Regions from separate parts of the Homo sapiens genome. Here regions 1, 2, 4, 5 and 6 are each linked to region 3. The links come from fine-mapping of genetic effects on gene expression. A gene starts in region 3. Each other region holds a variant in brackets. All regions are shown on one strand. Distances are from middle to middle.

What was found.
Region 1: its variant is fine-mapped to the expression of KLHL3 in whole blood (INTERVAL, PIP above 0.99).
Region 2: its variant is fine-mapped to the expression of KLHL3 in whole blood (INTERVAL, PIP above 0.99).
Region 4: its variant is fine-mapped to the expression of KLHL3 in whole blood (INTERVAL, PIP above 0.99).
Region 5: its variant is fine-mapped to the expression of KLHL3 in whole blood (TOPMed, PIP above 0.99). The same link has a PIP of 0.9 or more in subcutaneous fat.
Region 6: its variant is fine-mapped to the expression of KLHL3 in whole blood (TOPMed, PIP above 0.99).

The regions. Positions count from the first base shown.
Region 1 is chr5:137,573,173-137,578,246 of GRCh38, forward strand. No RefSeq gene overlaps it. Among named protein-coding and RNA genes, the nearest start is that of MIR874, 72 kb to the right of the region's middle. The variant T/C (reference allele first, on the strand shown) is at 2,153.
Region 2 is chr5:137,711,297-137,716,370 of GRCh38, forward strand. The region is part of intron 2 of KLHL3 (kelch like family member 3); the gene reads right to left. Among named protein-coding and RNA genes, the nearest start is that of KLHL3, 22 kb to the right of the region's middle. The variant T/C (reference allele first, on the strand shown) is at 2,463.
Region 3 is chr5:137,733,234-137,738,307 of GRCh38, forward strand. KLHL3 (kelch like family member 3) reads right to left here and starts at 2,856. Exons shown (of 15, transcript NM_017415.3): 1 at 2,400-2,856. The coding sequence starts at 2,413. RefSeq lists enhancers at 1,054-1,123, 2,455-3,123.
Region 4 is chr5:137,624,297-137,629,370 of GRCh38, forward strand. It overlaps KLHL3 (kelch like family member 3), which reads right to left. Exons shown (of 15, transcript NM_017415.3): 13 at 4,001-4,141; 14 at 1,457-1,600. Among named protein-coding and RNA genes, the nearest start is that of MIR874, 21 kb to the right of the region's middle. The variant G/A (reference allele first, on the strand shown) is at 2,156.
Region 5 is chr5:137,703,080-137,708,153 of GRCh38, forward strand. The region is part of intron 3 of KLHL3 (kelch like family member 3); the gene reads right to left. Among named protein-coding and RNA genes, the nearest start is that of KLHL3, 30 kb to the right of the region's middle. The variant C/T (reference allele first, on the strand shown) is at 2,913.
Region 6 is chr5:137,693,079-137,698,152 of GRCh38, forward strand. All of the region lies in intron 4 of KLHL3 (kelch like family member 3), which reads right to left. Among named protein-coding and RNA genes, the nearest start is that of KLHL3, 40 kb to the right of the region's middle. RefSeq lists an enhancer at 1,200-4,160 and a silencer at 2,388-2,588. The variant T/C (reference allele first, on the strand shown) is at 3,116.

The DNA of each region.
Region 1 (5,074 bases), 160 kb before region 3:
ACATCTTATCTCTGTAAACCCACCATGCTTAAGGCACCAAAGGTGCTCAGTAAATATTAGCTGCAAGACCTATGAGGCAGGTCTTATTTTACAAACAAGAAAATTGACATCCAGAAGGTTAAGTAAGTTAGCCAATGCTGTACAGCTAGAAGTGTACAATGGGATTAGAACTCAGATCTGCCCAGTTCTGGGGTCAGAGCCTACTAACCAGCACGGGAGCCTCCTTTAATACCCTCAACAGACCAGAGTCACAGTGAGTCCACAGACCCAACCCAAGCTGCTCCAGTCCTTAAGGATGAAGGTCCCAAGAAAGCCATCAGCTTGGCCAGCAGAACTGTTTTTCCCCTGGCTCTTTTCTGGCTCTGGGTTCACACAGGCAGCCCCGCCCCCATGCAAAGGACTTGGTCCTCATCCTCTTGCATTTTCACTCTGCTCTCTCCCAACCCAGATGCTCCAACCCAGCTCCCATACTCCTCATGCTGGTTGGACATTCTCTCAAACAATATGATTCATCCCAAACTCAGTCTCTTCCTGCTCTCATTCCCAAATAGTCTCACATATCTCTCTCTCTCTCTCTTTTAATCCTTCCAATTATCCAAGTTCAAAATATCCCAACCCTGACTTTTCTGCCTGGCCCCCTCCTCCTTACTCCCCTGTGCCATCCTTCTAGGCACCTGGGCTCCTCTATTGCTATTCCCCACACCCTACCCATCGACCTTTCAGCCCACGGCCCTCCCATGCCATTCCCAGGCCAGCCTGCTCCCAGTTCATCACCACCACTCCCTGGACTGAACAGCGGTCTCCAGTACATCTCCCTGCTTCCAGGCTCCCCGCACCTATCGACACCCCTAAACAGGATGCCTGACAAATCTTCCAAAGCCCAACTCTGGCCAGGTCCCTCCTTTATTCAAAATCCTCCAGTGAGCCCATACTAACCCACATTGGTAAATAAAACCCAAGTGTCAAAGTCCACTAGTGTGAGCTGGTTGTAAGGGATCTTTCAAGCCATATCCCACCATGGCTCTGTGACATGTGCCTGCACTCCCAGCTGATGGGTCTGTCAGGCATGCCATTTCTCAGACTTGCCTCCTGCTCTACCCTGGTCCAGGCACCAGTGTCATCCAGGAGAAGGGCTCAAGGGAAATAACAACATCAGCAGGACCATCCTCACAAGCCAAATGATACAGGCATTAAGCCATTGCTGCCCATGTTAATTCCATGTCATCAAGTCATAAGTTGGGTTCATTCATGAGCTAACAGCAGGAAAAGATTCTGCGGCCTCCCTTGTCCCCAGGAAGACTCATAACCAGAGCAGAAGTGGGAAGTCACCACCACATTTTCTGATCTACACCAAGTTTCCTAGAGGAAGGACAGGTAGGTAATGGAGTTTCCTACTCCTTTGGGCCCATGGGAGGCCCAAGGGCCATGGTAATACAGAACCCTTGTCATATTAACTGTGAAAAGAAAGTGGGGAAAGGTTTCTAGTGGAGTCTTGGGGAAGGCAGGTGAGGGTAAGGCAGCACAAAATTGTGGGAGTAGGGAAAGCTGGCATCCTTGGAGATGACACCAGGTCATGGTGTCCCTGTGGGCTATAGAGGATGGAGTTTCTGGTCCCTGTTATGCCCTCAAGTGACTTACATTTTCATAAGGGAAGGAAGTTATTCCAGAGTAATTCTGGAGTAATTAAGGCTCAGAAGTCCAGGGGAACATTCATTAGAAGCACCTTCCCTTGAGCAGGGCTTTCTTTCCTCCTTAAACCTGAGAAGGCTGGGGCCTTCCTTCCCTCTACCATCCCACCACACATGAGGAATCCATCCCTAGATGGGCCATCCCATGACCAGACCTCTTCAATTCAATGCTTGGGGGTCCCTAAGTCAACCCCTCCCCACCCCATACCCTGTCCTTGTTTCAAGTCTGATCCTCCCTTGCACATTGAGCTGATTAGGGCTCCTACTTTGGCATTCCAAATGCCTAATTGGGAATAATTACAACTCTTAATTACACTTCAATCATTACATACCAACACCACAGCTGCTTTTAAGTTTTATATTTCATTAAAGCAATGTTTTCAAGAGCCCATTTAAAAAGGTGGAAAAACTACTGAATAATCATTTATAATTTAAAAGTAAATAAGAGCAAATTATGATCATGT[T/C]TGTGAAACAAAACACTCTATCCAATCCAGTTAGTTATTAACCTAAAAATCTTTCTGAGTCACCTGGAGCTTTAGGTTCATGTAGTAAGCTCGGTGACTCTGACTCTAAAATTCCAGGCTTCATTTCCAGTGGTAAAATGCTAGAGCCCAAAGCTATAGAGTTTCCAAGAAAGGATGGCAACAACAAAAAAATGTGGTCAGGGCAGAAGGTCAGGTATCCCAAAGCAAGACTCCCGAAGACAATAATAACAATTTCTTGTATCGATACAGCACTTCCCATCTTAGAATGTATATTCAGGTGTATTTGTGCATAGGTCCAAGCCTCATTTTTTTGATGGCTCTTAACCTTTTAAAGGTGTAGTCATGAAAATTATTTTCCCCAGAAAAATGCACATTCATCAACCATACATAAGATTTTTCACATAATTTTAAGAGGTTCACAAATTCTTACACAAGGTCATCCATGAATTTCTTAGGATTTGTGATTTACAAAGTTCTCAATGTTCATTGTTTTTTCTAGTAAATGATGAAAGCATGGAGGCACCTGCAAATTATATGTACTGTGAAATTTCTAGGCGTGATTCTTTACTATTCATTCTATAGACATTGACTGAGTGCCTACTCTGTTCCAGGCATTGGGCTTGTTGCCAGAAGAGAGTAAAGATGTGGTGATGAATCAAACAGGGTCCCTTAGGGAAATCCCTTAAGTGGGAGAGGCAAGGGAAGGATGTGGGTTACGCTGAGGAGGAAGGAAGAGGAAGTACTAGAAGAATTTTGGTCCCTGGGATGCTGCCAAGCTGGGGCTGGCCTCCCTATAAAAGCTGCAGGAGGAATGGAAAGGCAGGGAAGTGTCCTGGCACCAAATACACAACAATGATATTAACAGCAAGACCTGAGTCCCATACAAGTAATTCCAACCCCTTGAAAGCAAGCTCATAAGCTTAACCCAGCAGCCAGGGAATGTGATCCATTCATCCATTAATTTCCAGGGGTGTGCTGAGTGTCTTCTGAAGACCCTACACACTCAGCATAGGAACGAGAATTCGTGACAGAGATATTTGCTGTAAGAAAGGCAAAGACTAAGTGCAAAAGATGTAGCTAATTCCATAGGTGGTGTAATAGTCTGTTCTCATGCTGCTAATAAAAACACACCTGAGACTGAGTAATTTATAAAGAAAAAAAGGTTAATGGATTCACAGTTCAACATGGCTGGGGAGGCCTCACAACCATGGCAGAAGGTAAAGGAGGAGCAAAGGCACGTCTTACATGGTGGCAGGCAAGACAGTGTGTGGAGGGAACTGCCCTTTATAAAACCATCAGATCTCATGAGACTTATTCACTATCACAAGAACAGCAAGGGAAAGACCCACCCCCATGATTCAATCACCTCCCACTGGGTCCCTCCCATGACACATGGGGATTATGGGAGCTACAATTCAAGATGAGATTTGGGTGGGGACTCAGCCTAACTGTATCAGGTGGTTTATTGCAATGACTGCTCCCATGTGACATTCTAGTACCCTAATTCTGAGCTTGGCTTCTGATGTTTACAACCTGTTATTTTGCCAAGCAAACATTTGTTTGTCTACAATATACTAACATCACTATTTTGTGAAAGACATTTCCTTATTATCTAAGAATAAAAATAAAGGACAGTTTCATAATGAAGGCCACTCCTCACCAGAAAAAAAGAGTTGGCATTTCACACCATGTGTGTACCCACAACACACACAAATACACAGTTTACATTTCCTTATTTTTCTAATTTTTCTAAAGACCAGTGAAATTTTATCACAGCTTAGCACCAGTTCACAGAAGGACATTTGGAAACCACCATAAGGATTTGAAAAACAAAGCAAGAGCAAAGTATCTGCAGAGCAATTTGCCTTGCCAGGATCAAAGAGAGAAGGTTTTCAGTGGCAGAACTGTCTGGGCTGGGTGCTGAAGGATGAAAGGAGCTCGAGCTAGTGGGTTGCTGGAGTCCTGCAGACACACTGGAGTGAAGGCAGGTGGGGAGAAGCACAATAGGAAACCTCATTAGTTTTGTCTACTAACAGCCCTTAATGTCCACATCTAACTTTTGTATCTTATACATTGTCATTTCTAATCTGTTCTTTGTTCTCCAAAGGTAGACTTTCCTAACTAATGGACAAAGATTTCAAGTTATTACTGGGTGGCCTTGTTCCCCAAACAGCAGTTCAGTTTTGTTAGCTTTACTATATTTGTGTGTTGTTCCTTATTTTTACAAATTCTTTAATATTAGATTATAGGGGGATAAAACCAAAGACCTATTACTAGAGGAAAAACAGCATATAAGCACTGTACAGTTTAGAAAAAGATGAAGTTTCCTTGATGATACAAAAGCAGAATAGTACTTGCTGGACCTAAGCCAGTCAACTACATGTTTAATTTTGAAAAAGAACAAAAATATTTTTCAAAAATTTGACCACAAGCATTTGTCTCTTCTCCCTCTGAAAATCCCACTAAAATGATAGTAAAATAATTTTTTTTTTTTTTTTGAGACGGAGTTTTGCTCTGTCGCCCAGGCTGGAGTGCGGTAGTGCAATCTCGGCTCACTGCAAGCTCCGCCTCCCAGGTTCACGCCATTCTCCTGCCTCAGCCTCCCGAGTAGCTGGGACTACAGGTGCCCGCCACAACACCCGGCTAATTTTTTTGTATTTTTGGTAAAGACAGGGTTTCACCATGTTAGCCAGGATGGTCTCGATCTCCTGACCTCATGATCCGCCCTCCTCGGACTCCCAAAGTGCTGGGATTACAGACGTCAGCCACCGCACCCGGCCCGAAAGTAAAATAATTTTTAAGTATAAATAACCAAAAGAAAAGAGAGTGAGAAAGGAGATAACAATGAATGAAAAATTTCTACAAGGCCAGACGCATAACGCATTACCACACTATTATCAA
Region 2 (5,074 bases), 22 kb before region 3:
TGCTACTAGAGATCATCTGGTCTATGAAACTCAGAGAGGTGAAAAGATGCCCAAAGCCACAGAAGTCTAAGTCTTGAATCCAGTTCTCCTTACTCCAGACACAGTGACTTTTCCATGGTATCACAATGCCTCATGATTGGCTGACATTCAGAATGAGAAAAGACAGAAGACAGGTTAGCCCCAACAGGGAGAAGTGGACAGGAAGTAGAATAAAGTATCGTTAAGGAGGCTTCCTGGAAGGGTGAGACCTTTGGACAGCAAGAGGCAAAACCGGGGGATTGAGACCTTACCCTGCAGTGGACAGCAGACCTTAATCACCAACTGTATCAGGATAAACCAGTGCAACCAGGAACAGAACTGGCTCTTCCCCTAACTGGCTATGAGACCATGGGCAAATAAGCTCACCCCATTTTTCTCACCTGTTTTAGCTGCCTTTGGGACATATATCATGGGGGCCAAATGGGATTACAGGTGCCATCTGAAAATGGCCTTTAGTCTCATTAAATTTTATTCTAAAATTGTATTTCCAACATGAATAGACTCATCTTGGACATTTTTACTTACATTTAGGAAGAAAATTGAGTTATCACTGCTATTTAAGAATAACCACACTTTGGGAGGCTGAGGAAGGCAGATCACTTCAGGCCAGGAGTTTGAGACCAGCCTTGCCAACATGGTGAGACCCCTTCTCTACTAAAAATACAAAAAAAAAAAAGCCCGGTGTGGTGGCAGATGCCTGTAATCCCAGCTACTAGGGAGGCTGAGGCATGAGAATCGCTTGAAACCCAGGAGGCAGAGGTTGCTGTGGGCCAAGATCATGCCACTACACTCCAGCCTGGGTGACAGAGCAAGATTCTGTCAAAAAAAAAAAAAAAAAAAAAAAAAAGAGTAACCGGTTATATTTTTTGGTAACTAATAAGAAAATTGTTGGCAGAGAAGAGTCAGAAATGCTGAACAAATGTTCAGTGCTAGGAGCTGAACAAACAAATGTCAGGGTGTGTTATCTTGCACAAACCCAGGGAGCCTGACAATTTTTGAACAAATGGGAAAGAAACACAAGGGAATGAAGAATAAAGATGGAGAATCCAGTTAAGCAAATAAATGACAGCAGTTCTGATGGGTGGAAAGTGTATCTTAAGGCCAGAGAAACACTAACCTGGGAAATTGGCCAAAAGAAACTTGCCAAATAGTTAAGATGGGCTTTCCCTGGGGGTGGGGAAGCCTGTCTGCACACTGGAGACATCTTTATGTATCCATGCTACATGGAAGAGGGAAGTAGTAGCTCTAAAGCACTGCATGGCTCACAAGCACTCCTATTCAATTTACCTGGGATCCTATGGGATCCTTTTTTCCGAGCTATCACACTACTCCATCTTGAGGGGAGAAAAGTAGGACTAGACACTTTGCCATTTGTGGAAAAGTACAATGTAGCTGTTAGGAAGGAGCTCAGGCTCTCAAATCAAACTCACCTGAGTTCAAGCCTCTCAAACCTCTGTCCCACCACTCTCTAGTGTAGACAAGTACACAACGTCCCCAGAGTGTCACAGAATTGACATGTGCTGTAAATCAGATAATGCATAGTGCTAATAGTAAATATTTAGCAAATGTTAACTTTTCATATTTTGAAAAAAAATTTTAAAAAAATGGTTTTTTTTCAATTGTCTGCTTCACTTTTCCTCCATATCTTCTTTTTTCCAAATAATATTTCATTTAAGATTAGAGGTTAAGTTTTGAACATGTTAAGTTTGAGCTGCCCACTGGACACATAAGTAAGGTTACCAAGCAGGCAAGTGGTTACATGGTCCTGGAATTCAGACATGGGAGATGGTTAAGAGGTTGAGGGGAGGAATAACCAGCAAAAAAAAAAAAAAAAAAAAAAAGTGTGTAGCTGGGTGCAGCAGTACATGCCTATAATCCTAGATGCTCAGGAGGCTGCAGCAGGAGGATTGCTTGAGCCCAGGAGTTCACGACCAGCCTGGACAACATAATGAAACCCTATCTCAAAAAATATGACAGTGTGGTACTAGTATAAGGATAGCTATATAGATCAATAAAATAAAATTGAGAGTCCAGAAATAAACCTTTGTATGTTCAATTGATTTTTGACAAGGTAGCAAGATCATTCAACTGGGAAAAAAACAGTCTTTTCAACAAATGGTGCTGGGACAACTGGATATCCATATGCAAAATAATGAAGTTGGATCCCTACCTCACACCATATACAAAAATTTACTTAAAATGGCTCAAAGATCTAAAAGCAAGAGCTAAAACTATAAAAACTCTTAGAAGAAAACATAGGGGTAAATCTTCATGACTCCAAATAAGGCAATGGTTTCTTAGATATGACACCAAAAGCACAAACAATAAAAGAAACAATGATAAATTAGTTATCAAAATTTAAAACATTTGTGCTTCAAAGGATGCCATCAGGATAATGAAAAGACAATCCATAGAATGAGAAA[T/C]AATTTTTTGCAAATCATCTACCTGATAATGAGCTTGTATCTAGAATATGTGAAGAACTCAAACTGTTACAACTCAATAATAAACAGAAAAATAACCTAATTAAAAATGAACAAGAGATTTTTTTTATTATTATACATTAAGTTTTAGGGTACATGTGCACAACGTGCAGGTTTGTTACATATGTACACATGTGCCATGTTGGTGTGCTGCACCCATTAACTCGTCATTTAGCATTAGGTATATCTCCTAATGCTATCCCTCCCCCCTCCCCCAACCCCACATATTTCTCCAAACAAGATATAGAAATAGCCAAAGAGCTCATGAAAAGATGCTCGACATCATTAACAATCAGAGAAATGCAAATCAAAACCACAACAAGATACCACCTTACACTCACTAGAATGGCTATAATCAAAAGCACAAACAATAAGAAGTGTTAGAGAAGATGTGGAGAAAGTAGAAGCTTTGCTGTTGATGGAAATGTAAAATGGTGGCAGCTGCTCTGAAAACAGTTTGGCAGTTCCTCCAAAGATTAAAGTTGCCATATGACCCAATAATCCCACTCCCAGACATATACCTAAGAGAAATAAAAACATACATCCACACAAAAACTTGTACATGAATGTTCATAGCAACATTATTTATAATAGCCAGAAGTCAAATGTGGTATATCTATACAATGAAATATTATTCTGCAATAAAAAGGAATGGTGTACTGAGACATGCTACAACATGAATGAACCTTAAATGCATTATGCTAAATGAAAGAAGCCAGATACAAAAGGCTACCTATTGTATGATTTTAAAACAGGCAAATCTATAGAGACATAAAGTAGACTAGTGGTTGCCTAGGGCTGATGGGGAGTGGTGGTAAGGATGGGGTAAACTATGGAGGGGATGACTGCTAAAGAATACAGCGTTTCTATTTAGGGTGATGAAAATATTCTAAGATTGTGGTTGCACAACTCTGTGAATAAACTAAAAGCCATTAAATTGTAACTTTAAACGGGTAAATTGTATGGCATCTGAATTATGTCTTGATAAAACTGTTACCAAAAGAAAAACAGAAAGCAATATGCTAAGATGGTTCATAACAATAATAAAAGCATAGTGACAGACCATCAAAAAAAAAGATGAGAGCAGAGAACTGTTTGCAATGGTGAAATGGGAGATTAAAATTGTCAAAATGAGAAAAGAAAGACTGCATGTGGATTCTACTCATTGGTTGTTCCATTCTCTCTGCCCCTTCTTTTCAGGCCTGGTTAGGATGTGCTATTCTAAGAAGGCCCACAGCCCCATTTGCTTGCTGGATGGTAAGTCAGGAGTAAGAGTCACTAGAGCTCTGCCATCCAGAAGCAGCAGCTGTGGTCTGGCCACAGCAGAGCAACAAAGTGCAAAAGGAGGAAGAAGGCTTGGCAGTGACTATGCCAACAGCCATTCTCTACCATGGAGGTAAAAAGAATAGGAAACTCATGAATTGTGTGATTCATAAATTGCAAAGAACATGTGTGCTTGAACTAAAATAGCTTAAAATTAAGGGAAGGGAATGTGAAAGCAATGCAAGAAATAATCCCAAATCCCTGGAATATCATGTAACATTTCATTAGCTTAACCCCTGGATGGCAAGATGCTTTAGCCCAGGCCTCCATAAGTATACCCAGCCTCTCTCTAGTTCCCATTAAACTCACTCAGATCAATAAAGTATCAATGCAGACCCCCTTCCTCCCTGCCTCCCCTTTCCACTCTATTTTTCATAAGTTAGCCATTTAAATACCTTGGAATTTGATGTAGCCTTTCAATAACATGCGAATACAAGCTTCACTAAGGGCAAGATTTTAGTCCTCTTATCTCCTGCCATGTTCCTGAACCTAGCACAGTGCTTAGCACATCATCATCATCATCATCATCATAGCTAATGCTTACAGAATATTCATTATGTGCCAGGATCTCACAACAATATCTAAGGCATAGTTATTATTATTATTCTACAGGCTGTTCAAATCAGCAATTCTACTTCTCTTCTATACAAATAATCATGAATGTGTACAAGTATTCAACAACAGTAATATATGTGTTGTCACTGTTTTAAGCACTTCATTCATTAATCTTCTTAACAAGCCAGCAAGACTGGTACTCTTATTAGCCTCATTTTATGGTTGACAAAAGTGAGATCAGAGAGATTAATTAACTTGTCTAGGGTCACACAATAAGTACTAGAGCCAAGATTTGAAGTCAGAGTCTATGTTTGTAATCACTATGTTATATGGCTACAAAGATAACCATAGCAGGGGTTATTTATATGAGGAACTGGGAAAACCTAGACATCCAACAACAGGGAACTGTCTTTAAAAAATAACTCAAAAATAGAATATCATTGATCCACTTAATATTGTAGAACAGTTAATGACATAGAAAAATGTGTTCAATATAGTGTTAAGTTAGGTTGAGACGTAAATTTCTTTTTTTTTTTTTAATGAGATGGGTCTCACTATGTTGCCCAGGCTGGCCTCAGATTTCTGGGCTCAAGTGATCCTCCTGCAAAGCTGGGATTACAGTCACAAACTCCAATGCCCAACTAAGGCATATGTTTGTTTGTTTGTTTGTTTGTTTG
Region 3 (5,074 bases):
TCCCCCTACCTCAAAGCATTCCTTGAAGTCAGTTACCCGTGCTAAGATAATAAGGCTGATATCCAAAGATGAGGCTATTGGCCAAAGGCTTCAGTCTCTTCTTTCACCAACTTTCTTTTTAGTTATCAGAGCCTCACACAAAAGTTATTAGCTAATCAGCTAATAACTATTCAGCACCTGCTATTTGTGTACCCATGCAGTAGTCAATGGGGGTATTTAGAAGTACAAGGCACCAGCCTTGCCCTTGAGGACCTGTCTCCAAGTCTGGGGACTGCTAAGATATATGAAATAAAAGCACTGAAAGATCTGGTGGGCCTATTATTCAGTGTCCAACTATGAGATACAAACCAGAGGTATTAGAATTCCGAAGAACATCAGCCAGGACTAGAAAAGCTGAGTTTCCAAGATAAAGTAGAATTTTAGAATAACCTTGATAGATAGATAACTTTTGCAAAATTGGAAGGGAAAGACATCCAGCAAAAGAAACTCTGGGAGCTAAGGATATGAGGCTAGATGGAGTAATGTATAGGATGGGTGATCATGAAAGAGATCAACAGAATTCTCAGTAGGTATATGAGTGAGCAGTGGAAATGGGAACAGGAGTTAGAGTTCAGAAGACTTGAACGCGTGGCATGGTAAGCTGGACTTGGAGCAGGAACAAAAGGTATGACCTGGGTGACCTGGTGAACATTGGAAGCTGCTCGGTTTGGATTTCTTGTCTACCATCTGCCTTCAGCAGAGGAAAAGTACAAGAACATGTGCAACCTGGTGTTCTAAAGCCATAGACATCAGCCATCCCAGCTGAGAGGCCCCAGGACAGGGGCAAGGACTCACTATATTTCTGAACACAGAACTGGGAACACAGTGCCCAAAACTGTTTGATCCGCTGCTGGTAGTCTCACACTGACCTCTCAACCCCAGTTACACCACAGGTCAAGCAAATAGGCATGGCCCAGAATCTCTAAACCTTCATCGCATCAACCCCATTCTCTGCCACCTACCAGATCAATGGGACACTGTTTTGGGGACCAAAGACACTGCTCACCTCTGCCCCACACTTAGGAAATAGGCCTTCATATTCTGCTGCTCAGCAGGCCTCACAGAGTTCAACACTAAACTCCTGTTGCAAAGAGCACCCAGAAAGAGAATGCACCAGCAGCACAGTCAGTCCCAGGCTCTTCCTGTGGGAGTCATCAAGAAACACAGTTCCCAGGGCCTCTACAGACAAAAGAATGACACCCAATCATCATGCTAGTTCTAATAGGGTCTAGAGATGTTTAATGGCATCACTGTGCCCCGTGAGACACAGAAGTCACAACAACTCATGAAAAGGAAAGTGTTCATTGAGATACTCTCTAGTGTTGACTTAGTTGAGCCTATTATTGTTAACCAGATGGTTACTGTCTGCATCAAACTGGCAATCTGGAGCAGCAGGCTTCCCCTCAGTGGTGCACTGCCATGGCCGGACCCCTCCCTGCAGTCTTCTCTCCTCAGATAAAATGGCAAGCCTCGTACTCTACCAACTGCAGACCAAAGAATGAAGAGGTTGGCACTCAAGAGATATTTTACTTCATAGACAGAGGAATGTCACCTCTGCACTGCGCTGAGCACCTTCACAATGAAAGATTCAGATCTTCAGATAACAATTTAAAAATTTAGATGTGTGTGCCTGCCAGGATCTAACTGCCTCGCTAGTTAGATCCAGCTCAACAAAAGTACTTAAAATCTTTTCTGCTGGTTCCTATTTCAAAAGAAATCCCTGATGGAGGAAGCACAGACCTTCCAGTATCACTCATAAACTTTTCAATACAAATATGAAACTCAGTTCAGAGCAAGTATCATCTGACTGGGTTTCTCTCCTTCATCCCTGAATGTGTGTGTATACAGGCATACACGGCGTGCACGCGCGCACACACACAGCCATCAGCATGGCATGCTTGCTGAAGATTCAAGCACTCCTGCGTGAAAATGCAAGTACACTATGTCAGGTCAGCCCCACTATGACATCAAAAACCCCCCACCAAAGAAAAAACACCCCGGGAAAGGAGCCAGGAAAGGGAAACGCCTCCTTGAAACAGCCTGAGAAAGGCAATCTGATTCAGCCTGTGCTGAAACTATTCCCGAACACCAGCCAGGAAGTCCCTTCTTTCAGGGTGCTCCGCTGCCTAGCAAACCCAGACCTGCCTTTGCGGAAGCCAGATCTCTGGAGATTCAAGCCCTGGAACGGGTGATTTGGAAAGCGGCTTTCCTGCTCTTGTTCTGGCGCCCTTTAAGATCCATCAGTGGCCAGGTCTTCCAACTCTGCCTAGCCAATGCAAACACAAAAGCTGGTGGCTGCACCGCAAGCACACATACACTTACATACACACACAACACAGCACACACTTATACATACATACCTTTCACCCTCCATTGTGTGAGGCCCAGCCAGGGTGGTAGCTGCTGAACTGTGTATGCACTCGGGGATCCTAGTTCTGTTCTTGATTCTCCCAGCAGACCAGTGGGAAATCTGATCAGCAACAGTGATTCAGCATGGCTGCAAGTGAAGCCTCCTCCCTTCTCAATCCTCCTTCCTCTGACTTACTCGCAGCAGCTTCTACCGCAAAAGCAGCAGCAACAGAAAATGTCTTACCCAGAGCTCCCTGCAGCCCTTTCAGCTGCTAAAAGCAGCAACCCACTTGCTCCCCCTCCCCCGCAGGCTTGCTGCTCCTTGGTCTCCTAGGAACGGCGGCAGCTCCAGCGACCCAGGTGCACTGCCACCTTTCCAGCTTCCTCTGCATCTGCCCAGGCATCCCCAGCCCAGGCGATTAGCCCGCCCCTGGGGCTCCTGCCTCCTCTGTCTAGGCTGCAAAGAATCAGGCAGTTCGTCACTAGCCCGAGAAATACTGGCCCCTACACCCTCCCCTGCTCCCATAGGCTATGAGTCTGTCAGCCTGGCCAGATTGCTGGAATGAGGAGGCCCCTCTGTGGCCTGCAGTGGAGTTTATCATCCACCTGGGGAAATTCACTTGTAGGTCACAGTTTATGTTCCAAATCCTCCTCCCAAATTCTGTAGTAGCTCTGAGTGTCTGATAGATGGGGAGAAGTTAAGGGAAAAGCACCTGACAGAAGTGAGAAAAACACAGAGAGAAATTAAGAGAATACAGAGAGAAATTGGAAAACTAGTCGAAAAAGAGAGGTAGTACAAATAGGTGAAACTGAAACAAACCCTATTTTACTGCAAGAGGCCAAAGACTACTGCAGTAAAGCTATCACAATGAATACTAAAATATCTTAGCACAATCCTAAAATATCTTCCTAAAATCTGTCATATTGGAATTTAACTTAAGCAGTGGCTCCAACTAGTAAGTCTCCCACTGAACCCCCATATCCAGCCAAAGATCTTTCACATCCTGTAATCTCCAGCTGCTGAGCTTCAATTTAGACTAATTTAACTCTCCCTGCCTGAAATGCCTTCTCCAATCCCAGTCCTTTAGTCTTTCTGGGAGTCCAGTCAAATCCCATGTCTTCATAAAACCTTCCCTAATCACACCAATGACAGTCAATCACCACCAAAATACACAAACTATACTTTCCTGTATCGTCATCTCACACCTAATATACAGTCTTGGCTAATTCATTATTTATAAATCTTCTTTCCCAAACTAAAACATAATCTTGTGGAAGGCATGAGGCCAGTCTGTATATCCTAGCCACAGAGGCTTAGAGGTAACTGGGACAATTAGCTGCAAAAAGTGGTGCAGAAGCTATCCTAATGCCTCAGAAAAAAATCAGCTATGAGCATCTCTCTTCTGGGACACCTCATGGCACCCCTGGGCTTTTCCGAATCCACACCAGCACTCACTGGGTGAGTGACTTTCCTGAGTAGTGTTCTCCACACTCTGGACCTCATGCTCAGCTACTCATTCACAATATAGGGTCAGACCAGACAATCTTTAGAGTCCCTTTCAGCTCCAAGATCACAGGATTCTAAAAATGTTTTAAATGGTCCGTTTTTCTTCTCAGAGTAATCCGTGTGATTGTTTAAGAAGAAATACTAGGCTCCAATGTGTTGTAGGGGGCTTCAAGGAGGATAACATGATGTAGGTGAAAGTACGAAGAGACGCTCAGTAAATCTATCATCCTTATCATTTTAACCTGTTAAATTTCTTCACTACTACAAAGCCCTAAAACCACAGAAGGAAGAGAGGAACACTGAGGTGACAGAAAGTAAAAGTAACTAAAACTTTATATAGCCTCCTGAACTCAAACTGGCTACAGGGTTATTCTCAAAGATTACCTCCCCTGGCACCTCAGTGTTCTCTTAGACAAGGCCATTACTCACACTCACTCTTTCTCAAGTGAGAAGAGGCCTGGATAATTTCATTTACACCCCACAGGGCTGTATCTTCACTTCTTCCTTGCACAACAATACCCCTCATATCTTGTTCCCTCTATGTCCCTTCCTCCTCTAATCAGCCTTGTGGCCCTGCTCCAGATATTTCCTCTTGAGGCCAATCACAGGGACCACAAAAAGCTGAACATCACAAATAAGGAAACTGAATCTCGGAATCCGTGCCAGAGTTCAGACATCCACCAGGAACACAACTGGGTGATTCATAAAAGGGACATAAGAAAGAGATGACTCCTCCTTTGCACATACCCACGTTTACATATTCGCCATACAGGAAGGTGTGGAAATGCCACATCTAACAAACCAGACAAAGAAAAAAGATCAGAAAAGGAAATATGTAAGGGTTGTATGTATTCAAGTTTCAAAATATAACTATTAAGAGCCAGTATAAAACCCTGCTAAATTTCCCTGCAAAACCATACGACTACACCTTCATACTTTATTCACCACTCATGATTCACAGGAGGTAGACAGAATAGAGAACACTCAGAAGAGGCCATTTAGAAAAGAAAGGTCATCTTAAGCAAAAAGAACAAAACTGGAGGCACCACATTAACTGACTTCAAACTATACTACAAGGCTACAGTAACCAAAACAGTATGGTATTGGTACAAAAACAGACACATAGACCAATGGAACAGAAAAGAGAACCCAGAAATAAAGCTGTTCACCTACAACCAA
Region 4 (5,074 bases), 110 kb before region 3:
AGGGACATGAAATATTCAGCATATATATGAAATTCTAACCACCCACACTTAACTCTTCCCCTCTCATTAAGGCACACATGGAGTCAAGGGAAGATTCCTCACTTGTCTCACTCATCCCAGAACAGAATTACTCCAGGACCAAACTTCTTCTAAAATGTTTTATACTTAGCCAAGAAAAGTATTACAAGGTGAAAAAAACTCTAAAGGAAGAAAAAAGTTAAAGTTCATTACAACAGAAGTCTTATGTTGAAAGAATGTGCTGCAAACTCCTTCAAATTTGCACAGCACAATCTTCCTCTGCAGTCAAACAAGATGGAATGACTGACCTTTATAATGCAAAATGGGAATCGGAAGAATATTCCTGGAGTCGTGGTATGGATTAAAAGAGATAATGACTATAAAATACTTTGGATAATGCCTGGTATGTTCTGTGCATGCTGGATCAATAATGTTATCTCTATTCCAGGTTCTGGAAAACCAGATACAAGGAACTGAACTACACCATGGATATATATTTGCTCATCTCCCCATGGACCCAACCTTAGTAGTACCAACTCTGATGCCACCCCTGCCCCTGCTACTCACCAAACCCCTCACACACACTCCCCAAGAAGCTTCCACACCCGCCTGGTGCCTTACTCTAAGGCTTACCCTGAGCTGGGGTAGCACAAAGGGCATGGACTTAGAACTCTGGGTTTGAACTCTGACTTTGCCATTTATTAGCTGTGTGGCCTTCAGCAAGTTACTTAAACTCTCCAAACCTGTTATATCATCCATAAAATAGACGGATAGAGTCCCATTCAGCCCAAGGGTTGTTGAAAAGATGAGAACAAATGCACACTCTGTTCCTAACACACTGCCCCATGGCACGGGGCCAGCCACGCAGTAAAGGACAGCTATTTGTGTGATTGTGATCCACCCTCAAAGTTTAATTGAGCCTATCTCCTCCAGGAAGGGTTCCCTGGCTTTGCCAGTTCTCACCAGTCTTTCATGTGCTAAAACCTGTCTAGCGTATGTCATTTAGAACTTGTATATGCATCATCTTGTCTTCCCAGTTGTCCAATTCGACCCTGGACAACAACAATCGCATCTTATGCCATCTAGGAGCCTGGCACAAAGTAAACCAGGAATGGCAATGAAATTCTAAAATCACTTGTGACAACTCAGTTCAGTTGGAAGTGGTTCGATGGAATGAATGTTATAAATTCTGAGGCTATCTTCAGGTTCACAGGGTTCGGGCAGGGGCAGGGGTTAATAAGTGCTAATTATCAATATCTGTCATGAGTGCAGAATGAAGGAGTGGTGGCCATGTAACAATTACCTGTCATCCCTGGAGGAGGCACTCAGGCCCAAGTTAAGCAAGCTCACATCCCCTCATCCCACTGGCCCACCCAACCCTCATTCCCCCAGTGTGTTGGAGGCCTCTCGGATGGGCATGGAGATGGCACACACTGACCTGCATAGCTCCGCCCCGTGCTCATGTTCGTTGGAAGCAGCGTCCATTTGTCAGTGACAGGATTGTAGTACTCCACCGAAGCCAAGTTGCAGGATCCATCATCCCCTCCAACCACATACAGGAGCCCATTTACTGCACAGACCCCTGTGAGTCAAACAAAAGCCATGGGAGACATCACAGCAGGTGCACTAAGAGATCAGAATTGATCAAGAGACAAATCTGGATAGCCTGGGAGGCTCTTTTCCTCCCTTCATGGCAATACAACAGAGATTTGGCTCCACAGGTTTGAGTTTGCTAAGTGAAAGAAAATATTGACAACAGCCACTGGGCTCCAAGGATCCTTCTTCCTAACAGGATCATTTCTCTGACCAGGGAGTTTTGATTACTTATAACGTGTATGCCCCCCGCCACACACATACCTATACTATAAGTATGTAGAGCATATGGGCACAGACCCCTCTTTAATGGAAAGGTGTATACAGACCTCCTGTGCCAGGCCTGAGCTAGGGAATAAGACAATTCAGGGGACTTCATGCATGCTACTCCTTCTCTGCTGCTAAGTTTTTCCCTGATAAGCCCTATGTTATATTCACACTGTGTGATGCTGATGGTTATGTCTCTAATCCCTTTACAAGACTGGGTCTACATTCACACACAACTCCCAGGGATGCAGAACAGCTCCTACTCTGATCTCAAAGG[G/A]AGATGGATTTTGGGCAAGGTCTCATACAGCAGGGTCTAAGGCATAGGAAAATGTAATGAATTATTGCTCATTAAGACTTTCAAAGGCCACAGTCCAATATGTTGTGTATTTTTTCAAAATTAGATTAAGGGATTGGTGATACTCTAAAAAGTAGTAATTATCAGTGTTGCTGAAGGTACTCTCAAATACTGGTGAGACGAAAAAATGGACACCCTCCTGGATGGCGTCTAAAATACATGTGCTTCCTCTGATTAAAAAATTCTACTTCTGGCCAGGCACAGTGGCTCACACCTGTAATCCCAGCACTTTGGGAGGCCAAGGCAGATGGATCACTTGAGCCCAGGAGTTCAAGACCAACCTGGGCAACATGGTGAAACCCTGTCTCTACAAAAAATACAGAAATTAGCCAGGCGTGATGGCGCATAACTGTGGTCCCACCTACTCAGGAGGCTGAGGTGGGAGGATCTCTTGAGCCCAGGAGGCAGAGTTGCAGAGCCAAGATTATGCCACTACAATCTAGCCTGAGAGAGCGAGATCCTGTCTCAAAAAAAAAAAAATCCATTTCTGGCCTTTTATTCTAAAGAAATAATTTTAAATGTGTGTACTAATTTAGCTATAAAGACCATTTATAATCACTCAAGTATTACTTATAGGATAGAAAAGATGGAAATAACCTGTGTCCAATAGTAGATTGGTTGTTTAAATTATGATATAGTCATTTAAAATAATATCATATAAATAAGTTTAGTGTTGTAATAAGACGTTCATGAGAGATTGTAAAGTGAGTTTTTTTAAAAAACAGGTTATAAAATAGTGTTATAGTGTAATTCCATTTTTGTTATTAAAAAATAGAAATATCTATGTATGAATTTTATACAAACACACATTTACATCTAAACTGAATTCCCAGGTTCTAGATAGACTAGCTGCCTTAAGGGTCCTGTAATTCTTTGCTCATGTGGCTTAAAGCCAAATGAGAACTTGGCAGCAGGCTTAGGCAATGAGTAAATTAGTAAATATCACCACCCCCCCCCCCGGTTTACACTTCCAAGTCAGCCACGAATGGGCTTAGCAAACAGGTAATATGAGAATAATGAAAATGGATCTGCCTGAAAGTCACCTGTGTGTCCTTCCAGCCTGGGAAGTTGGGCTAAGCCAACACTTTCCTAAAGCAAAGAGGCATAAAGGATATACTGACACAGTACACGACCCACAAGGCAAAGCTCAAAAAGGAAATAGCTTAAAAGGGGCCTCATGCTCCAAGAAATATAAACCTAAATACACTACAGTAAATCTTTCCTACAGGAAGGCATAGGAGACAAGAAGGAAAGCAAAGACAGGAATACAAAGAAAGCAATAAGGAAAGGAGAACTCATCAAGGGTCCAACTGTCCCTGCAAGGAAGGAGACTGCTTTCAAGTAGGAAGTGAGAAGTTCTCCTAGCCAGGCACTGGCAAAGAAAAGATAGAACCAAGTGCCATTGTCTGGCCCTTGTCCACAGAGCCCTGTCCTTAGCTACCTACTAAAGCTGTTGGGCAGCGGGCACTGATGGCAACCAGAGGACTTTCCCAGGTCTGTGCTCATCTGTGTGCGGTAAAAGTCATCACCCTTCACTGCGGGGAAAGGGGATCCTCTGCATCTAGGTTGCAGGATCTGCAGCTAGCTTTTGGGGTCTCAATTTCTCCCCTCCTCTAATCAAGAGCCCACCTGGCAAATGCACACTCCCTGTTCAGGATATACGCTCAGCTCCAGACCCTGGGAAATCTCCCTGCTGTTTAGAGCCAGTGTCTTCAGGGAGAAAAGGCACACAACCCCCAAAGGGGAGATGGAGAGAGCAGTCATTACCTGCGTTGCGCCGGCACATGTTCATGTCTGCCACTTGCTTCCAGGTATTTGTTCCAGGATCGTAAACCTCAACGCTCTTCCTCACCAAAGGCCCATCATGCCCACCTGTGGCGTACAGCTGTCCGCTAAGCACTCCAACCCCTGAAAGGCAGAGCACAGCATCCCAGCCTCATGCTGACTACAGTAACCAGAAATCAGGAGGCCTGGCATCCAGTCCTGGACAGCCCTGACCAGTGAGGGGACTTGGGGAGTGCCATTTTGTCTCCCTGGACCTCAGTGTCCTCATCTGTAAAACAAATATAATGACACCCTACCTGCCTCCTCATAAGACTAGCAACCTCAAAACTTTGAAATATAATGCAAATGTGACCCAAATTCTGTTTTTAAAAAACATTAAAAAATATATATATATATATACACACACACAGACAGACAGACATACATACATACATACATACATACATACATACATACATACGGGAGAGGATGTTCATAAGCAAAGAAAAAAAGACAAAAAATACTGAAATAAATCCATTAAAATATTAAGAATAATTATTTCTGAGTGGTAAATTACATTCATTTTCCTTTTTTGCCTATCTATATTGCCTAGTTTTCCTACAATGCTGTATTACTTACTCATCCTTATATTAGTTGAGTAAAAAGAGTTAAAAATTGAAACTAGCCACACAGCAAAAGTGCTGAAATTATCATCAGGGAGGCCTCCCTGCTGGTCGTGTAAGCAGAAGCTGACCTTTCTGCCCACTTCTCTCCTCCTGTACTGCAGAGGGCATTATCAGATCACTCACCGTGTTGATCAGCCTGAGCTGAGTGCTAGAATTGCTTCGTTTACAAGTTTTAGTATAATCTTTTAAAATCCTTTTATACAACAAGAAGATGAAAGCCATAAAGAAGGAAGACAGCACAGTATCTAGAAAGTGCAACTGACCTGGTAGCTAGGACACCTGTGTTCTGGACCTGTCTCTCTGACTTGCTCACTGGGTGACCCTTCCCCTTTCTGGGCCTCAGTTTCCCTATTTGTAAAGGGAAAGAGTTGTACTAGATCAGTAGTTCACA
Region 5 (5,074 bases), 30 kb before region 3:
AATGAAAATGGAATAGATTGGTTGGCAGGTCTCTCTGACGAACACCACAGCTAAACCACCGACCACCCCTACATAGTTATATGTCCTTAAAGACAAGAAAAGGGAGTGTTCAAGAGTCCTTATGTCACAGAATACCTTCTTGCTCCTAACTTGAATTAGTACTGTAATTTAGTCTCATGTTCTGGGTAGAGAGAACAAAGGAAAATCCTTACCCTTTGCGCAATGATTCTTCATGGGCACTAAGATGGTTATGGAACTTTCTTCCCCCCAACCCTCATCTAAGTCCTAAAATCTGGGCTGCCAACTCATTTGGCTAGAGCTGAGCACTAAGGCCAAAGACATTAACCTCACAGGAGAAAAAGAAATACTCTGCCATCTCCTTGAATCCTGACCAACCCTGTTGCAGGTGAGTGGTCTGGGCCATTTGACTGCAGATCAGGGAATGTCCTTAGTTCACAGGTCCTTATGTCACATTGGGAGTGAACAGCAGTCTGTATTCCTAAGTGCCACACAGTCCTCTGTTGAAGCACAGGTCACCCTATATCACCTGTGAAATAAGGACATTCTCTGTTCTGCCTTTATCCCAAGGTTGTGTGAGAATCAAAGGAGACAATGAGATTGTGAAAGGTGGGACAGCAGGATCCAGCAGAACCACAGTGATAGACACCGCCTCATCACCCGCCCTCCCTGGAATCTCATCCCTCCTCCACCTGGAAATATCTTTCTGCTCAACTAGAAGCACGAGAAGCACAAAGTCAGGAAAAAAATGCCTCTGTGTCATTACATAGTGACTACAAAAAAAAAAAAAATCAACCCTAATCACCTCCACCCCCGACATCCACAAGAATTTTAAAAACTATGACGTGCTCTACAATAATAAAAGTAGACTTTATTAACTATCTACACAGTGCTGAGTGCCTTATACCCGTTACCTATATTTGTTCCCTACTTATTGTTATTATTCCAGTCCCTTCAATAAGAAAGCTGAGGATCAGAGAGGAAAGTGAATTCTCCACGCACCTATGCAGTTAAGATTGGAATACAGCCTGTAATCCCAGCACTTTGGGAGGCCGAGGCGGGTGGATCATGAGGTCAGGAGATCGAGACCATCCTGGCTAACAAGGTGAAACCCCGTCTCTACTAAAAATACAAAAAATTAGCCGGGCGCGGTGGCGGGCGCCTGTAGTCCCAGCTACTGGGGAGGCTGAGGCAGGAGAATGGTGTGAACCCGGGAAGCGGAGCTTGCAGTGAGCCGAGATTGCGCCACTGCAGTCCGCAGTCCGGCCTGGGCGACAGAGCAAGACTCCGTCTCAAAAAAAAAAAAAGATTGGAATACAGGTCATTATTACTCCAAAGCCCTTTCCAAGATACCACACCATCTCCCAGTGCAAGGCGGCATTACCACACTTGTGTTTAATCCTTAGTAAAGAGGCCCCCACATCACCAACTCCAAACCTCTTCTATGAACATTCATAAAATATTCCTTACCAATAGTTTATCTCCAATGGTGGTCTCAATTTTAAGGCTGAGCTACTCTAAACCCAAACAAGTCTACCTCAGACCATCTTGGTCAAACCAGTTGCACCTTAATGGAGAAACCACTGGAAGTGAATAGCAGTCTCTATTCCTGAGCACCACACAGTCCTCTGTTGAACCACAAGCCAAATTCCTGCTCAAGAAACTTGCCATTTCTGCATCAAGGGTAACATTATTAGACAGGACTACTGGCTCCCTCACCTTCAAATCTGGGTATCTGGGTCTCTTGAGCCAGAAAAAGATGCCTGACTTTATTGTGGTATGATAGGGACAGGAAGAAGAAGCCCTATGTCACTGTCACTTAGCCCAAAAGTGACTAACTCTAGAAGATAGCCACGTGGAAGGTGAAGCCATTGCTCCTTCATCCCAGGCAGCCTCTGACACCGCCATCCCTTTTTCTCTGAACTATTCTACCTAATCCCTGACTCCTCAGGGGCAAAACTCTCAGAAACCAGACCCTATCTACTACCACTATTACTCTGCAACCTCCCTGAAGGCCCACTTTGTCTAAGAAAAGAATTCTATTCCCTAGTTCTCCTTCTCTCATTGTCCATTGCCTTGTATTCAGTTTTGCTGAGCTGCATGTTATGCAGAGCTCTTCAAAGGCATCAATATACCACACAAACACTAGAACACAGACACAGCCACAGGCCAGGGCCTGGTAGAGTCTGGCTTGCAGCAAGGGTGAAACAACAGTTCTGTGGAAGGAACTTCATGCCTGGGAAGTGAATAAGACAGCCAGGCCCTCATGGTTCTGCCTTGTGGATGATTCCTGCCTACTCCAAGTCTAAGCCCCTTGTCTCTCACCCCCAGCACATTCCTGAACTCTCCTCTCTATTTCTACTTACCATATATTCAAAGATACCAAACATCAGCCTAAATCTAATAAAAACTGGACAGTAACTCCTCTTTAAAAAACAAAAACCAATCTAAATCAGCCACTACATACAGTACAATATGACCAGATGAGTGGGACAGATCACTCCCAGGGCTTCATTTGGGATGGAAGCCCAAGTGTCTTTTAGCCATGATTATGGGCATAAGACCCTGAGCCCATATATTCTGTAGACCTCAGTTCCTTTAACACCATAAAATAGGGGCTGTATCTGGATGACATGTAGGCAGGGACCCATATGGAGTACAAATACTACAGTATACAGAAGCCATGGTAAAGGGCATGATAAAGAGAGAAACACTGATGAGGAGATTTTGGGAAAATTGCTTCCCTTGGGATGGAGGTGCTGGATGGGGAGGATGGGGAATGAGTCCTAGACATTTCATCTTTATAGGAAAAAGATGGGCAGAACACAGCACTACTGGCCTCCCCACTCAAGTTATGCTGAAAGCAGTAAAGGGCAAATAGGTTGACTGCTCAC[C/T]CCAGATCTTCTTATAGACTGGTTGGATTGGGACACTCTCTGATGGGCACTCAGACTTCAGTTTCACATTTATTCCAAGTTATTGTCCACAGGACAATGGTCAAGAAGTGTGGGATTGGTATTTGGAACCACCTCAGGACATTTGGGCAACATGAACTCGGAAGACAAAAAAATAAAAACATTTAAGCTTGAGTAAAAGACCATAATCACACAACTCAAGTCAGAAGAAAGCCATGTGTATTTTACTTTCCTTTTGGCTTTAAACACACTGATAGAAATGGATCTAACGAGAGTCAGCCTCTTACTCTCAGTACACAATGCATTTTACACGTTTTGAAGCTGAACCTGATAATTAGAACAAAATTTTGCAATGTTACTGGAGATTTTTAGTATCTGTTTACCAAGGTTTAGGCAAAGCCAATGGGCCTTAAAAATATATAAATCTTAGATATCTTGCTGATGGGAGCATAAGCTGGTACAACTGTTCTTTAGATCAATGCGGCACATGTCTCAAAAGTCTTCAAAGTGTGCATACCTTTTAATCGAGTACTTCTTATTCTAGGAATCTATTCTAGTAAAATAATCAGGAATGTACATAAAGATTAAGATGCAAGGATGCCCATTATATCATTATTTATAATAACAAAATATTACATAAAACTATAATTTCCAACGAAGGAAATGAATTTTCAATTAGAGTATATATAATGGAATCTTATGAAGGCATTAAAATTAGGTTGTAACTGCAATTTCATTGACATGGAAAGATATTCATTATATATTGCTAAGCTCAATTAAACAAATTTTTATTGATCACCTGCTATATGGAAGACCATGCTAGGCAGCAGGGACATGGTGGTGAATTTTAAAGGTATAGTTCTTACCCTTATAAAGAGTATGATTGGCCAGGGAAATCAAACATTGAGGAAGTAATAAGATGAGTAGTAATACTAAAGAGAAGTATAAAGTACCATGGGAGTAAGTAGCAAAGGAATTTAACCTAAGCCAAAGAGGTCATAAAAGGCCTTCCTGAGGAAGTGATGCTTAAGCAGTAATGAAGGATGAACGGGAGTCAGACAGGCCAAAAGATGGAGGAGAGAACATTCCAGGAAGATGAATAGCAATTTAAAAAAAAATACATACATCAAAAAAGGCTATTTAGGCTGGGAGCAGTGGCTCATGCCTGTAATCCCAACACTTTGGGAGCCGAAGCAGGTGGATCACTTGAGGCCAGGAGTTCAAGATTGCCTTGCCAACATGGCAAAACCCACTCTCTACTAAAAATACAAAAATTAGCCAGGCATGGTGGCACACACCTGTAGTCCCAGCTACTCAGGAGGCTGAGGCACAAGAATCACTTGAACCCAGGAGGCGAAGGTGGCAGTGAGTTGAGGCTGCACCACTATACTCCAGCCTGAGCAAAAGGGCGAGACTCTGTCTCAAAAAAAAAAGACTATTCAACTGTACACATTAAATGAACTTATGTTAAAATATATATTTTGTATATGTATACATTTATAAATATAAAATCTAAAAAGATATAAACCATACTCTTACCTAGATGTTGTAGTACACGTAATTTTTTACTTTTTGCTTGCCCACAGTTTCTGGTTTTTACCTGTAATAAACACATGTGAACAGTATTTGGATGGACGGGTGAATGGATGGGTGGAAGGATGGATGGTAACCAGGTTTAATGGAAGGCTTGGGCTGGGCATTGCATTACACTGCTTTCTTCTCTTGATTCTCCCGTCCCTTCCATTCCTAGAATCTAAGAATGCCCCAGAAGCACTTTTTCTTCCAATTTGTAAAATCACTTTGGTTTTGCTATGACACTTCCGCTACTTCAGAGGCAAGTTCGTTAACAAAAAGTGGAGCCAGCATGACAATTCATTGCAATTCCAAACAGATTCCTCTCTCAACACTGAACTTTCCAAACTCCACACACAAAGAATAACTGGCAGAGCTATTTATTGAAGTTACAGCTAAATAACTATTACAGACAAGATGAACTATTTTAAAATAGAGATTGATGAAGGAAAGGGGGAAAAAAGGAAATAAAGGCCTTGCAGCTAGGGTTTAGGACAACTCAAAAGGGAATGCAGCTCAAAATTTCCAGATACTGAACTTAGCTAGTTTTCTGGGCTACAGTGTGAAATTCC
Region 6 (5,074 bases), 40 kb before region 3:
AATGATTAATTACTGAACATCTATGTGCCAGGCACTAGTTTAGGCTCTGGGATTCAGGGGTAAGCAAGAGAAACCAGATCCTGTTCTCCTGGAGCTTAGAGTCTACTGGAACAAGATTCATTCCAAATCCCTCAGGACTCAGGCAACGACACTTTATTCTCCCATCAAACAGATACAAAGCAAAGAACATCTTTAGGTACATTCTTAGAGAAAGGAGAGCTAAGTTTCCATTTAAAAGGTCACAGGACACATGACTATTTATACTATATCCTGAAAGACAGAAATAGTTCTTGCTCAGGTGTATATGCATGTGTTTTTCCTAAGGGTCAGGGAAGACTGGCTTGAGCAGGCCCGCTGGGTGCTCAGACAGCCAACCTCTATCAATTTTCCCTAGGACTTTCCCTCAGCTGCTGAAGCCTGCCTCTAGATCAAACATACAGGACAAAAGGCCAAAGTCCTGTCCCACTCCAGCTCTGCTACCCTGCCCTTCACCTATGGAAGCAGCAGGTAGTCTGAGAATGATTTTCCAAAAAGAAATTTAGAAAAAAAATCACACTACAGAATAGCTTGATTTAAGGCTGCTTATCTTGGGGACCCTGGCATCCACTTCACCCCAAAATAATCCCCTTGCCCCAGGCCTTTGCTCTCAGCTGCTGCCCTGGCTCTGAGAGAGTGACTGAGCCAGCTACACTCTAGCTGTTCCCAGCCACAAGGGCTTGCCCAGGAAGATATGGGCTGCAGATGCATTTGTTTTCTTGATTCAGGACACTTGAAAAAGACTTCTTTTTTTTTTTTTTAAGTGCTTTAAATTCTGGACTCTTTCTCCCAAGACAGCTCTGAGTCCTCAGCTCTGACTCTCATCACTTTTATGTACTCAGGCCAAAAACTCTGCCCCACTGCCCATTTGGGGGCTTTGTCCCTCCACTGGGTTTACCAACAGTCCTAGTTTTTCCAGGACTGGGGGTTTCCCAGGACTTTCAGGGCTAAAAATGGGACAGTCGGTCACCCTTCATTATCCCTGCCCACAGACAATAACCACCAAGAGCCACCACTATCAGTGCTCGAACTCCTGAGCCAAATGCCTACGCTCAACAAGGAAAGCTGCTCCTACCCACAGGCTTACACTTCTCTCTCACGACAGCTGAGTTCTAGAAAACGTGCTCCTTTTCCCTTCCTCCATCCTCTCTTCCACTATCCTATATCCCCAGCAGGAAAACAGTAAATTAACACCATGTCTGTGATATTTTCTGAACCACTAATACATTCCTGAGAAAGAAAAAGATAAAATCACCCTCTTCTGAAAGTTTTGGACTATAAATGAACACAGCCAGGATCCAAATCTAACCACCTGAACTCTCTCCCCACTAAGCAGCCATCATCTCCTCTAAGCAGCCATAAACTGGGAAACTCAATTAACCTGTGAGCTTGCTCAGCCCGGCCGAACAGATTCCAGGACCAGATTAGTCTCTGCCTGCTAGTCAAATGGGGATCCATTAACCATTCTTGCTGAATGCACACCAGGAATAAAAAGCTCTGCTCCCAGTCTCCAAATGACCTCCATGACACCCCCTGGCCAGTATCAGCTAGAGTTAAGACTGGTGTCAAGGCCATAGGTTGACCAATCATGCTGATTTACCTGGGACTTTGCCATTTTTACCACTGAAAGTCCCCCTCTCAGAAGGCCCCTCGCTTCTGGGCAAAATAGGATAGGTGTTCATCCTAGGGAGGAGTAACCTCTAACCAGTGACCCTCAGAAGCCCTGAGGGAGAGGAAGCCATCAAATGTTGGCCAGCACAAACCCTACTCAGAGGTGTGGTAAACTCCAAAAGGGCCAGATGTGAGAAGAGGCAGGAATTCAACAGCAACCCTCTCCCCACCACCCACCATCCAAGAGGATTTCTGAGAGTCCAATCTGCCCTCAGACTGCATTCCAGCGAGCTCCCCAACCCCATACGCATATACAAGATCATGCCAGTGACACACAGTCCCTTCCCCCTTCCCCTCTTCCAAGGAGACAGCAGCACAGTGTGGTGCTTAAATTCTCAAGCTCATGACAACCAGCCAGAGAAATGAAATAATAAATATTTCCTGAATATACTCCTTAGGTTACACTTTCCATTTTTAAAACCTCCCTGGATAGAGCTACCCACATGGCTTTCAACTTCCCTACTGTTCACAATACCCACTTAGTAGGCAAAAATTATAAGGCTTTCTACCTCTCCACACCCCTTATCCTGTTTGAGTCCACTCCTACCCAAAAGCCTTCCCAAACCGACTTCCTAAAATGAATGGGCCTTCTGGTTTCTCTAGTTGCTCTTTCCCTCTCTTTGACTCTGAGACTAGCTTAGAGTCAAAGGCCATTTTCTTCCTTCTACTTGCTTCATACAGAAAAGTGTGGGAAAAAAAAGTCAAGGAAATCAGAATGCTGAAGGGAAGGCTTGGAGGCTGGAAGATGTATCACTGCTCAGACTCTGGGTCTCAGGGATAAATTAGGGCCCCATCCAATGGGGTTCTGGGATCTAGACACAAGTACAAAATACATTCCCAGAGGCCCTGAAAGAAAAAAGAGCAATACATCCATGAAATGACTGTCTTCAGTTCCCTCTCCCCACATCAACAGGGCTTTGAGAGGACTTCCTCTTCTCTTATCTTGCCTGAAACTCTACTTCTTCAAAGCAGCAGCAGTGACAAGATTATGAACAAAAGGCCAAGTGCAGGTCCTCAGCTCTGAAGCAAGACCATCCTCATAGAATAACTAAGGCAGTACTGCCTGGTCCCTGGAGGGAGGAGGCTGAGATCAGAGGAGTAGTTGGCCAAATCCACCCATCAGGATGGAAGATTACCGTAAGTCAAAAATCTTCTAGCTTGCCTTCTGCCACCTCAGCATTACAGTTCTTGGAAAACAGGCCCTGAAATGGCCCCCAGCAAGAGTCTACAGGTTACCCTTCAGCTTGCAATGGCTTCCCCTCCATTTTTCATGTGCAGGCCCCGTTTTGTTTTTTTTTCTTCCTCAGATAACATGAAAACACAGCAGAGGATATCCTGCCACAGAGTTTGCTTCCTCTAGCAAAAACAAAAGGAAATGCCCTGCCTCAGAAAGCACCTTCTCCTGGAA[T/C]TGCAGGGAGGCAGGGCCATGCACAGAGGGAGGGCATCAGCCAGGGGGCGCAGGTGTTGGGGCCACCCAGGGTCTCTGCCCCAATCACACAGTGGGTCTGGCACAGAATCAGTGCCACATAAAGAAAGAAAGGAAAAGAGGTGGGGGGGTATATAGATGAACAGGAAAGCTGGCAGAACAGCACTGTGATTAAGCGTCATTTTGAATTTTGACTCCTCCACTTACCAGCCATGCAACTGAGGACAAATTACTTAACCTCTCAATGCCTCTGTCTCCTCAAAAATAAAATGAGGACAATAAGGTTTGTTATGAGGATCAAATGAGAAAAATTTAAAGCAGTTAGCACAGTGCTTGGTACATAGGAAGTGCTCAGTTGATGTTAGTTTTTATTATTGTAAATAATTATGAGCCAAAGTCAAGGTTCTGATCATTCATTTCATGAGAAACTAGAATTCATCATAGCCACAGAGCACAGTGAGTCAGAGGGGGCTGGCTTCAGCTTCCAACTCTACCACTTACTCTCTATGTGACCGTGGCAGTTTATTTAACCCCTTTGAGCACCAGTTTCTTCAGCTGTAAAGGAGGAATCATATTGGTATGGTCCAATGGGTGATTATAAAAATTGAATGGAATAATGCATGTGAATTGATGGGCACATGCTTGCTTATAAAAGTATGACTGCTGGTACCTCCACCACGGAACAGGAACTCAGGGTCCCTCCAAGGTACGTGTGCCTGGGAAGGGACTCCAGGTGTAGCTCTCACAGCCATTTAACCAAGCCCCAGATCTCTGACCCTTGTTTCTAAGGCTTTCAGGAAAGCCCCAGTGCCTCCATGCTCATCTCCTCGGTGCACCAAATCCTCAATACCTCCTGTCTTCACAGACAACCTGTGAGCAACCGCCTCAGCAGATACATAACAGCATGAAGAAGAATCCATGTTTTTATCCAAACTCTCTTCTTCCCAATCTTTTTTTTTTTTTCTTTTTGGAGACAGAGTCTCGCTCTGTCATCCAGATTGGAGTGCAGTGGTGCAGTCTCAGCTCACAGCAACCTCCGCCTCCTGGGTTCAAGTGATTCTCCTGCCTCGGCCTCCCAAGTAGATGGAATTAAAGGCACCTGCCACCACGCCCAGCTAATTTTTGTCTTTTCAGTAGAGACAGGGTTTCACTGTGTTGGCCAGGCTGGTTTCGAACTCCTTACCTCAGGTGATCTGCCTGCCTCAGCTTCCAAAAGCGCTGGGATTATAGGTGTGAGCCACCATGCCCAGCCCCTTGCCAATCTTTCTTGTTTTTTCTCCAACATCACCCTTGACCTAACCACAGTTTAAAGTGAAGAGATTAAAAGTCCCCAAACAATGAGGTTCAGAGAATTTTCAGTTTGGTGAATGCATCCACATGCTGGGAGGGTGACATAACCCAACCTCATAAGACAGAAGCTTCTGGACTCAGGACCACCAAACAGTGAACATTATGTCCACATAAACTGTACCTTGCTTTATGTACCTCTTAATCCTAACCAGGCAATAAGGATCCAGAGTAGAATATCTTCTAATTATCCAAGTTTGTAAACACTTTGTATTTTACAGGAAAAAAAAGTTATTAAATAAATACATGATGAAAAGAGCAAAGAGAGCTGGTTCCAATTATAGACTTCTACTACCTCCCCTCTACTCATTTTATGCCAAATTACTTTGCACTTACTGTTAGTACCCAAAAGTTATTCACCTGTTTGAATTCTGAGATGAGACGATGACCTGGGGAGAATAGGAGTCACCTAAGCTCCCAGCTTTTCCTTCACAAGATTTTGAAGACATGAGTTAAAGATCTTCTACTCCCGGGGCCCAGGCTCATTCAGGGATATCATGGCCTAGTGGCTAAAAGCATGGGTGCCCAAGCCAGGAAGGCATGAGTTTGAGGACCAGCTCGACCACCTCCTGGCCATGTGGCCCAGGGCAGGTC